2 separate regions of the Homo sapiens genome follow, and region 1 is linked to region 2. Evidence: fine-mapped expression QTL. A gene starts in region 2. The other region holds a variant in brackets. All regions are shown on one strand. Distances are between the middles of the regions.

What was found. PIP is the estimated chance that this variant, and not a neighbour inherited with it, causes the effect.
Region 1: its variant is fine-mapped to the expression of LINC03014 in whole blood (INTERVAL, PIP above 0.99).

Annotation. Positions count from the first base shown.
Region 1 is chr7:112,495-117,871 of GRCh38, forward strand. It overlaps LOC105375114 (a long non-coding RNA gene), which reads right to left. Exons shown (of 3, transcript XR_926959.3): 3 at 162-3,403. Among named protein-coding and RNA genes, the nearest start is that of LINC03015, 34 kb to the right of the region's middle. The variant G/A (reference allele first, on the strand shown) is at 2,350.
Region 2 is chr7:147,051-152,427 of GRCh38, forward strand. It overlaps LINC03014 (long intergenic non-protein coding RNA 3014), which reads left to right and starts at 2,668. Exons shown (of 2, transcript NR_108065.1): 1 at 2,668-3,082. It overlaps LINC03015 (long intergenic non-protein coding RNA 3015), which reads right to left and starts at 2,388. Exons shown (of 3, transcript NR_134325.1): 1 at 2,279-2,388; 2 at 1,482-1,568. RefSeq lists an enhancer at 2,119-2,413.

The DNA of each region.
Region 1 (5,377 bases), 35 kb before region 2:
CACAACCTTGTTCTTATTTTTCAAAGTTGTTTCTGGATATTTTAACCCTTTTGTCTTTCCATGTAAATCTTAGCATCAGCTGTCTCATTTCTTCAAAAGGACCATAAGTGGCACGGTAGTATATTGATGAGCAAAGACATACAATCGATTTTTCTATGAAAGTTAAATGCTGCAACTTGGCTAAACTAATTTTATTTGTACTAATAGTTTGGTTTTTATGGTGGTAAAATTCACATATTATAAAATTCACTATTTTCACAATTTTGAAGTGCACAATTCAGTGGCATCCAGTGCGTTCACCACGTTGTCGGCCCCAGGACATTCGCATCACCAAGAAAGGAGACACCACATCAATCGAGGTGTCACTCTCTGTTCCTCCCTTCCCCCAGCTCCTGTCACCACTAACCTGCGTTCTGCCTCTTTAGATCTGCCCATTTCGTATAACTGGAATCATATAACATGCGGCCCTTTGTGTCCGTCTTCTTTCACTCATCATGTTTTCAGTTTCAAGGTTCATCCATATTGTGGCATGTTAGGGCTTCATTCCTGTTTGTGGTTGATGAGTAGACCACGCTTTCTCAGTGCCTATGCTAGTTGTTTGTAAGTTTCTTAAGATACTTCCTCATACATGATTCATGATATCTGCATAAAGAGGCAGTTCTTCTTCTCCCTTTCCAGTGTTTATGCTTTAACTTTAATGTCATTTAAAGCTACCTGTGTCTCTGTTCTTCAAGTGCAATTTTGGAAGACAGCATGTGTGTGGGTCTTGTTTTCATATCTATTCTGACAACCTCTGCGTTTTACCTGAAATCTTTGGTCCACTCATATTTAAATAAGTATTGACATGGTTATGTCTGGGTCTGTAATTTTATGCCTCGCTCTCTATACATACCCTCCAGTTCCCCCCTTTGTTTCTCATTTCTTAACTTTTTTTAGGGTTACGTGAATATTTACTGATTGATTTTTCTCCTCATTATATTTTGTGAATATACGTGAATATTTATTGATTGATCTTTCTCCTTATTAAGCTTTTTCAGCATGGTATCACCTCAGTAGTAGAGCATAATCAGTCCTAGACTAATTTAGGCCCCACCCAAAAAAGCTTAAAATCAAGCCTCAAATATATCAAATTGTTTCCAAGTAAAGTAACTTCATCCCTGAAAAGTTTTAAAATAATTTTAGGAGTGCAAAACTATCCAGGATCTAACAAGGAAAAGTACATGATGTCTAGCATACAGTAAAAAATCACCAAGTATGCAAAGAGGCAGGAAAACACATCATGTAATGAGGAATATCAACAAATTGAAACTAATTCACAAATGGCACAGATGAGGGCATTCCTAGACACAGATGAACTGTAGTTATTATCACTCTATTCCACATGATAACGTTAAGCAGAGATATGAAAAACATTAAAAAGTCCCAATTCTAACTTTTAGAGATGAAACCATTTCTGAGATAAAGAAAATTCACTGGATGAGATGATGAGATTAGACAGACACTACAAAAGGAAAGATTAATGAACTTAAAGGTATATAATAGAAACCATCCAAAGTGAAACACAGACAGAAAATAGACCCCTTCAAAAGGAGCAGAAAGCTAATTGGGGGGCAACTTCAATTGGCCTAAAATTCATACATTTAGAGTCCCAGAAAGAAAACAAAGAAAAAAAAACAGAAAAAAAAGGAGGACATAATGACTGAAATCTTTTGAAATTTGCTTTTTAAAAGCTACATATCCCAGTCCAAAAAGTATGAAGTACGAAGAAGGCACATCTTAACCAAACTGCTTAAACTGGGTAAGAACGAGACAATCTTAACAGCAGGCAGAAGAAAAGAGACGTGCTGGGTACAGAGGAACAAAGACAAGGATGACGACAGGTTTCTCCTTGAAAATGAGGCGAGCTAGAGGACAGTGGAACAAGCTCTGCAAAGTACTGCCGGGAAAAGCCTGTTGATTTGTGATTCTGTACCTGGCAACAAAGGTAGAAACAGGGTGAGATATCAAGTTTTTCAGACATATAAAAGCTAAAATATTAATCATACCAGCAGATAAGCACTAAGAGATATTAAAGAAAGTCCTTTGGACAAGAGGAAAATGACATTATAGGAGACCCGATAGAAGCACAGGAAGGAAAAGCATGTTTTGCTGGGTATAGAACATGTAGAGAAATAAAATATGTGCCCACAAGGACATGAAGGAGGGCAGGGAATGGAAGTGTGCTGCTGTAAGGTTATTAAACCATCATGATGTAGTGTAATATTATTTGAAGATAGATTATGATAAGTTGAAGGTGCACACTATAAACCCTAAAATGTATACACACACACGCACACATACATATGTACA[G/A]ACAGAGTTATGGGGAATAAGCCAACAGAAGTGATTAAATGGGATGATTAAAAAATACCCAGTCCAGAAGAAGGCTGGCTAAGAGGAACAGGAAACAAAAAGTAGACAGGATAAATAAAATGCAAATAGCAAGATGGTGGTTTAAGTCCAACCATTATCAACAGTGATGGTAGATGAAAATGATCTATAACCATTGGTCTAATTCAGTGGCAGTTTGTCAGACTTAATAACAAAGCAAGACCCAACTAATTGCTGCCTACCCAAAACCCACTTTAAATATAAATTCACAAATACATGAAAACTAATGGGATTTTAAAAGATACACTGTACTAACACTAGTCAAAAAAAAAAAAAGCGGGAACAGCTATATTAATATTGAACAATGAACACAACCAGCATTATAAAGAAGGTCATTTTGTACCAGCCTTTAGCTGGGCTTCTTTTATCTGCTTTGAGTGTGTGCAGTTCAGGGCCAGTCGGAAACATGAGTAGAGTCCGCCAAGTTTCCCCTTCTGGACGCTCCCCCCCTCCACTGGCCACAGCTTCCCCAATTTCGTCCTGCTCCTGTTCCAGGCCATGAAGACTGTGGTCTTCCCTGAGGACCCCCAGCTCCTCATGCCCTAACTACATAGTGCTCAGGCTAACAGCCACGGTCAAAGAGAACGTGCTTCCTGCAACTCCTTTATCCCCCGTGTACACCCCAGGTCCGTCTTGCTGTTCACTCTCCAACGCCCACAAGCAGCCTGTTTGCATTGTGTACAGATTTTGAAGCTGTTTTCTGTAAGGGAGTGGGTTTGGTGTGATCTTACAAAATCCTTACAGGAAGCAGAACCAGCAATTACCCATCCACTTTTAGAACTGCCTTGTGCATGAACCTTTTGTCCTTTGAGTCACACTTGGAAAAAGTGTAGGCTTCGTCTGTTGCAAAGGTCATGGTGGCTTCACTCCAAGAAACTTGAGAAACAGTTATTGTTTTAAACAGGGCACAACTGCAGTGTCCTGAGGAGCCCTGCATGGCCATGGAGTTTGCTGGATGAGGGATATGGACGGGCTCCTGCAGCGAGAACAGAGACAGAGAGGGAGAGGGAGAGACAAAGAGGAGACAGAGAGGGAGAGGGAGAGACAAAGAGGAGACAGAGAGGGAGAGGGAGAGACAAAGAGGAGACAGAGATACAGGCAGAGAGAAGTGGGAGAGACAGAGGAGAGAGAATATCTGGCAAACACATTCCACTTTCGGATTCCTGCTCTGGACATGGAGGCCTGCTCTTCTCCATAAGCCCTCTCCCTTCCTTCAACGTCCTCGGGAAAAAGCGAAGCAGACCCTTTTCCCTCCCTCGCCCTCCTTGCCCTCCACAGGGGCTCTTTCCCATAACCTGCTGGCTGGTCTCTGTGGCTGAGTTCTGCCCATCCAGGAATGGACTCACCAGTGTCCCGGTCCAGCCCCATCTCCCCTCCACACTCAGGAGCTCCTCGGGTGAACTCGGTGCTAGCCAGGCACTCAGCACCAGGCTCGCAGGCTTCTTCCCAACACCTCCAGCCTGTGCCCCACCTGCACCCACACCCATCATTCTGCTCCGGGCTCTGCCCCGAGGCCCCCAGTTCCCTGAGCTCGCCCATTCTCTGGCCTTCACCCACACTATGGCCTCTGCCTGGCCTCCCTCAGCCGTGTGGACGCCTCCTCTCAGCATCTAGGATCTAGGCCCATCTCCACGCCGTCTCAAAGACGCTGGGCTGCTGCCCACTGTGAGACAGGAGCCCCCTCTCTGTTCCACACCACCCTTGACAGGCACTTACCAGGCCCGTCCACCTCATCTGGTGGGTCGTGTCCGTCCTTTCATCAGATAGCAAGTCCCTCAAGGCCCAACTCCCTGAGCCCCCATCCCCCTCTTTGTCTCTCCTCCAGGGATTAGTGTCACCCCTGATCCCACTCCGGCTTGGCCTCACCCACAACAGCTGGCACCCACCTTGGCCCTCCTGGCTGTGGCCTTGACCCCTGGTGTTCATCCTGGCTCAACCCCTGGCCCTGGTTCTCTTGGTGCCACCTAAACAGTCTACACTGTCTTGTGTTCACCTTTTCTTTAATTATTTGTTTAGCAGAGCAGAGCTGATTTTACAAATATAAATCCGCCGGGCGTGCTGGCTCACCCCTGTAATCCCAGCACTTCCGGAGGCCGAGATGGGTGGATCATGAGGTCAGGAGTTCGAGACCAGCCTGACCAACATGGTGAAACACTGTCTCTACTAAAATTACAAAAATTAGCCAGGCGTGGTGGCGCGCGCCTATAATCCCAGCTACTCAGGAGGCTGAGGCAGGAGAATCACTTGAATCCAGGAGGCGGAGGTTGCAGTGAGCTGAGATCACGCCATTGTACTCCAGCCTGGGCCACAGAGCAAGACTCTGTGTTAAAAAAAAAAAAATATATATATATATATATATATAATTGTTTGACCAAATGCAGTGATTTCTCCCAGTTTGAGAAATAACTCTTCTTTATAAAGTCATGTTTTGGTGAAGCAGGGCTGGGTAAACCTGCGCCACAATGGGTGGGAGCCCGCAGGAGACAGGCCCTCGTCCAGCAGTGTCCAGACAGCTGCATGGAGCAGAACACGCAGCCCTCACCCTAGAGCCCCGACTTGGGTCATGGGGGCTTAGAAAGAAAGAAAGGAAGAGACAAGACTGGATAAGAACCGGGTTTGGTCAAGGAAAGGAGGGGTGGACGTGCAAAGCCCTCCCGTGCGGGAGCCCTGGGACGGGGGCACCATCCCACAGCCCCCCGGCAGCCGCCGATCCCCCCGACACAGCCCCCCGGGAGCCGCCGATCCCCCCGACACAGCCCCCCGGGAGCCGCCGATCCCCCCGACACAGCCCCCCGGGAGCCGCCGATCCCCCCGACACAGCCCCCCGGGAGCCGCCGATCCCCCCGACACAGCCCCCCGGGAGCCGCCGATCCCCCCGAGACTGGCCTGCACCTGCACATCTGGGGGGCGGGGCCCCGAATTGTCCTGCCACAGTGGCCCCGCCGGCAGG
Region 2 (5,377 bases):
ACTCTCTATAACACCTGATGTTTTCTCCATAGGCCTTAAGTGCCAGCATCTGCACAGGTACTTTCCTGTTTAGCCAATTCTATTTTTTAGCATAACTTTCACAAGAGAATTTAACATCTGTTGTGTAGCCTTTACAGTAGAATCTGCTACAGAGTCTACCATGAGGGATATGTTTCTAGTCATTGCCTTTTTAATTCCAAACCATGGAAAAAGGACCTAACAAATGATGCCCTTCTAGAAGAGGGAAGGCCTCTTGGCAATGGTCTCTTTAACCCATGCTGTGGGTTAAGAGGAGTGAACCAATGTTCTGCTTCTGAATGATTATGAGGCACCATATGTACCATTGAAGTTTCTCACCTATGATACACTGGGCCTTCATCTTTATCTATCAAGTTATAAGATTATCCATGTATAAAGCTGGCTGCAAAGCCCTTCACAAATAAAAGTATACCCCATAAGTGCACAAAACAGACCCCCTTCTCACTTCTGTTGTTCACAGAGGCGGAAGCAACGGAAAAACATTCAAAGATAAGAGTCTCATGATAGTAAGAAGTCTTGATCCATGATCTTCAGAAAGAGCTGCTCACATCAAGGATGCCATCTTCTTCTGGGGAGAAACTTCCCTGATTAGCTTTACCTTAAGGGTTTCAATGGATGTAGAGTTCCAAGAGTGACCCTGCTCAGTTGTGAGATTATGACCCCAAGGTTCAAGATCCTGATGTTTTGTTGCAGTGATGATGCCAAGGGCAGCGTTTCTCTGATGTTCTCAGAAGATCCCATCTTTGGGTTCTAGATTGTGAAGGGGTTGATTGTCCTCAGTGAACCATAAAAAGCTCTTTACCTGGTGAAAATACACTGATACATAGTAATCTACTGTTATAACATTAGCCCTCCTGCATGGGAAAGCTTTAGTACAACCAGAACACATACATTGAAAATGACAACTGAATGAAACCCCTTTATAAATGTTTAAATGCCTCATCAGGTAGCCAAATGTACATGAAGCTTTGATTGACTTCCCAGGAGTATGGGTTTGACAAACTAAACATTGTTTATAAACTATTTTAACAATCTGTAAGTCACCACACCAACATATTTAATTTGGATCATTTTATCTTTTCCAGGATGAGTCATGGAATGCATAACTTTTAATAACAAAAGCTTTAAGGACTCACGAAGGACAAGGCAGCCATCTTGGTTCTCCATGAGTCCATGCTTAACATCGGACTTATGTCCTCTTGGGTGCCAGTTGTTTCTCCAAATTGGGCACATAGCATGGATAACTGATGGGTTATCACAGGTAATTTGACTTAGACCATGGAGTTCATTCAAATTGTATATCTAAACAATTTCAGTATAGGCTGATTAAGTATGCAAACCTGGTGAAGCATTTCCTCGGTATTCAATTAATTTTTATTCTATTTGGGTTAGCAGTTTTATAAGCCAGTCAGTCTTTTCATTAAAGTTTCAGCAATTCTTACCCAGTCCAAATGATGTGATTTTGAAGTTACTAGAAACCTGTATTCCACAGTGCTTTTCAGGGTCCTCCCCATCCGTTCACGAACCTCCTAAAAGACACCATGTTCTAGGATTTTTGTGTGCTTGTGAAGTTTTCAGAAACTACATCAGCATGAAGCAATTAACTGCGGAAATGACTTTAAATACTCAAAAAGACACAATTGACAAAGAAATTTGGTTATAACAACAACATAACCATAATTATGATCGGTAGCATATACTCAGAAAAATTAGAATTTTAGAAATCCCATACAACTTTGGAACATATATTAATATCATTCACTAAAATATAACCTGAAGAAGGTTAAATTTTTTTTTTGACACTATTCTGTATCGAAAAGTCCAAAATGTTTCTTAAAAAGTAACTAAAAAAACACTGGAGTAATTAAAGGACACTTCCTGTGCAGGGGATGGAAAAATCTCAACAAAAAAGGAGCGCAGAAGAGCCTGGCTAGGCGGGAGAACACGGTCAGGCCCGCAGGAGACGCCGCGGCACCTGCCAGAAAGAGAGCCGCAGGCCAAGACCAGGAGACGCGAGAGAGGTGGGCAGGGCTGCCCGAGAGACCCAGGCGGCCATTGCCCGCCCTGCGTCTGCGCCTGCGCCGGAGCCTCCTCCACACTGCGCCAGCGCCGAGTCCGGCCGCCTCCTCATTGCGCCGGCGCCGGGGCTTCCTCCACACCGCGCCTGCGCCGATGACAACCCGCCTCTACAGGACGCCTGCGCAACGCCATAGTCACCTCATCAGCTCCGTGCACTTACGAGTCTCTCTCTGATCGACCACGTGTTCCTGTCGGCTCACAGAGGCCGCCTCAGGGTCCTCCCCCATTGTCTTCCTCGCACCCTCCACTGTTCCCGGCCCTTCACTCTGCGCTTGCGCAGGAGTCGCTCGCTCCTCTCTGCGCCTGCGCAGAGGCCACCTCCTCCCCGCCCGTCCGCTCCCTTGGCGTCGTCTTGGGCCGCGCCCCGACCCCTTCTGTTTACGCATGCGCAGGAGCCGCCCTGCGCGGGTGGGGGGCTGAGCCCCTGTGGCTTCAGGTTTAAAGGCGCGAGCGCCACCCACGCAGGCACAAGGGCTCCTAGTCGTTTTATTTTTAGCGTAAGGTTTTCCTCTTTAACAAGGAAGTAAAAAAAAAAGTTGTGCAATAAATATTAATCGTCCTTATATGTACTCGGGAACGTTCGTCCTTTAGGTTTTCTCCTGGCGCATGGGCGCCGCCAATCATTTCGGGGCTTATTTTGGTTCTAAAGCCCGGGGCAGCCAGGCCTCCCTGCCTGGCCTCGGCGGGGACGCGGGACCTGGGGCCCCGGACCGGGCCTAACCGCCCTGGCCGGTCCCCACTGATGGTGGCGGTCGGTCCTGATCGTCCTGATGGCAGCGACCAGGCTGGACTCGGGCTGTGCAGGGGCGAGGGGAGCAGGGCGGGGTGACGCCCGGAGAGCGGCCTGGAGAGCGCGTGCTTCAGAAGGCGTGGGCACCCTGTCCCCTTTGCAGATGGGGATGCAGGCCCTGGTGGCGGTGGAGGGGAGATGGGGGCAGGGACGTTGCCGGGCAGAGGAAGCTGGGTGAGTGTGCACTTGGTCCCCTTTGCTCCTCCCTGGGACTTTGGGCTCTATAGGGCAGCCTCCGAGGCCCACGTGCACACTCGGTGAACCACAGTCCAGACACAGGCAGGGCGGCAGGCCAGGGAAGGAGAGGCCAGGTGTTGGTGCATGGAGAGGCCAGGTGTTGGCCTGGGGGTGCTAAGTGAACCCCCAAGGTCGCGGAGACAGTAGGGCAACAGCAAAACGAGCTCTGCCGTCCAGGGCGAGGGCCCGGAGTCCTCCCCAGGGGTGGGCTGCAGAGAAGCCCCTGTCCAGGCCCTGCTCACCTGCAAAGTGCTCCCGAGCTCCTGTGCCCCCAGCAGCAATCCCAGCCCCGCTGACACCCAAGCTTGTCACCCGCTGGGTTTCTTGAGGTCTGAGGACCGTGGCTGAGGGTGCATGGGCGCTGGGATGGAGGGGGATGTCCTGTCCCAGTCTGTGCTTATTAATTGTTAAAGAGGGCAAGGCTGCTTTTATTCAAGGTGGGGGGGCTGCTAAAGCGAGATGTTGGGTTAGGGGAGGCAGATCCGGCTCAACTCCAGATAGAAAAAGTGGGAATTGACAGCCCAGGCGTAGGGTCGGGAGTGGAGAGAAAATTACTAAGAGGAAGGGTCAGGGGCAAGGCGGGTTCTAGCTGCATAGACAGGATTTTTGCTGAAAAGGCAGGCAGTGTGGTCACAGACCGAGGGTGGGAGTTGAGGACTTTGATCAGGGACCAAGAGTAGACGATTTTCACTAAACCGACTCAGCAGGATTCTTGCTAAATCGGCCGAAACCGGCCAAGGTCAGGGACTGGTCACAGGGAGGGCTCAGAGGAGCCTGACTCGAGTGTGGTCAAAGGAGAGAGTCTTTGTCATCTTTTAAGAGGCGAGAGTGACGTATTAGTGAGAAACGGTGAAGGGATCAAGCTCAGGCCAGCAGCCCCGAGTTTGAGATGAGGACAGGCTGGGTCCAGGAAGGGCTGCAGGAATAGGGGGCACCTGAGCCTGCAGAAAGCGGGGAGCCCAGCCGCCAGAGCAGGCACCCCCAGGCAGACCTCAGTGTGTCCTGCCCTGTGGGAGTGGCAAGGCCAGACCAAGCTGGATGTGAACCAGTCCCAGAACACCGCCTAGAATTTGGATTGTAATTTGTTATCGATGATATTGCTGCTTGGTCTCTCTCCTCTTCCTCCCCACCCCCACCCAAGATGGAGTCTGGCTTTGTCCCCCAGGCTGGAGTGCGATGGCAGGATCTCGGCTCACTGCAACCTCCGCCTCCTGGGTTCAAACAATTCTCCTGCCTCAGCCTCCCAAATAGCGGGGATTACTGGTGCGTGCCACCACACCCAGCTAATTTTTGTATTTTTGGTAGAGACGGGGTTTCATCATGTTGGCCAGGCTAGTCTCAAACTCCTGACGTCGTGATCCGCCCACCTCAGCCTCCCGAAATGCTTTGGGATTACGGGTGTGAGCCGCCGCGCCGAGCATGGCCATCGTGGCTACATCAGTCCCGGCTAATAGAGATTTTAGCACACTCAGATTCTATTGGCTAATAAGATTTAATTATAATTCTGGGGTATTTAACAATGTCGTTATACAGTCTTCATTGTTGCAAATGGAGAATGAAATCGGGTGCATGTGACACTAATATGACCTGTTCATGCTCTGTCACTTAAACGGAGTTAAGTAACATAGCCCTGAGCAGGAAGACTCCTTCCCCACTTCTGTCCAGGAGCTCCTTACTCGATTCTGGGGAACAGAAAGGCTTTCAGCGGCCAAGGGGAGTGACAACAGCCAGACATGAGACACCTCCTAGAGCCCTTTGGTGTTACCCTTTCCGGTCCATCAGCCACAGTGTCCACCCCAGGTAGCTGGGTCCTGAGTTCACCGTCTCAGGACATTTTTCGACCTGGTTTGTCTGAATTATTATTATTATTGATCATTGAGACAGGGTCTCAGTCCATCGCCAAGACTGGAGTGCAGTGGTGTGATCCTGGCTTACTCAGCCTCCCAGGCTCAGGTGATCCTCCCAGCTCAGCCTCCTGCGTAGCTGGGACCACAGGCAGGCACCACCATGCCTGGCTAAATTTTTTGTATTTTTTGTAGAGACCAGCTCTCGCTATGTTGTCCAGGTTGGTCTCAAACTGCTGCCTCAGCCTCCCAAGGTGCTGGGATTACAGGCATGAGGGACCAAGCTCAGCAATCTGAATTATTTATGCAGAATTTTTTTTTCTCTAGCTGGAAGAGCTGTTTATATGCACGTTTCTTTGGGGGCAACTCTTCTCCATTGTCACAGATT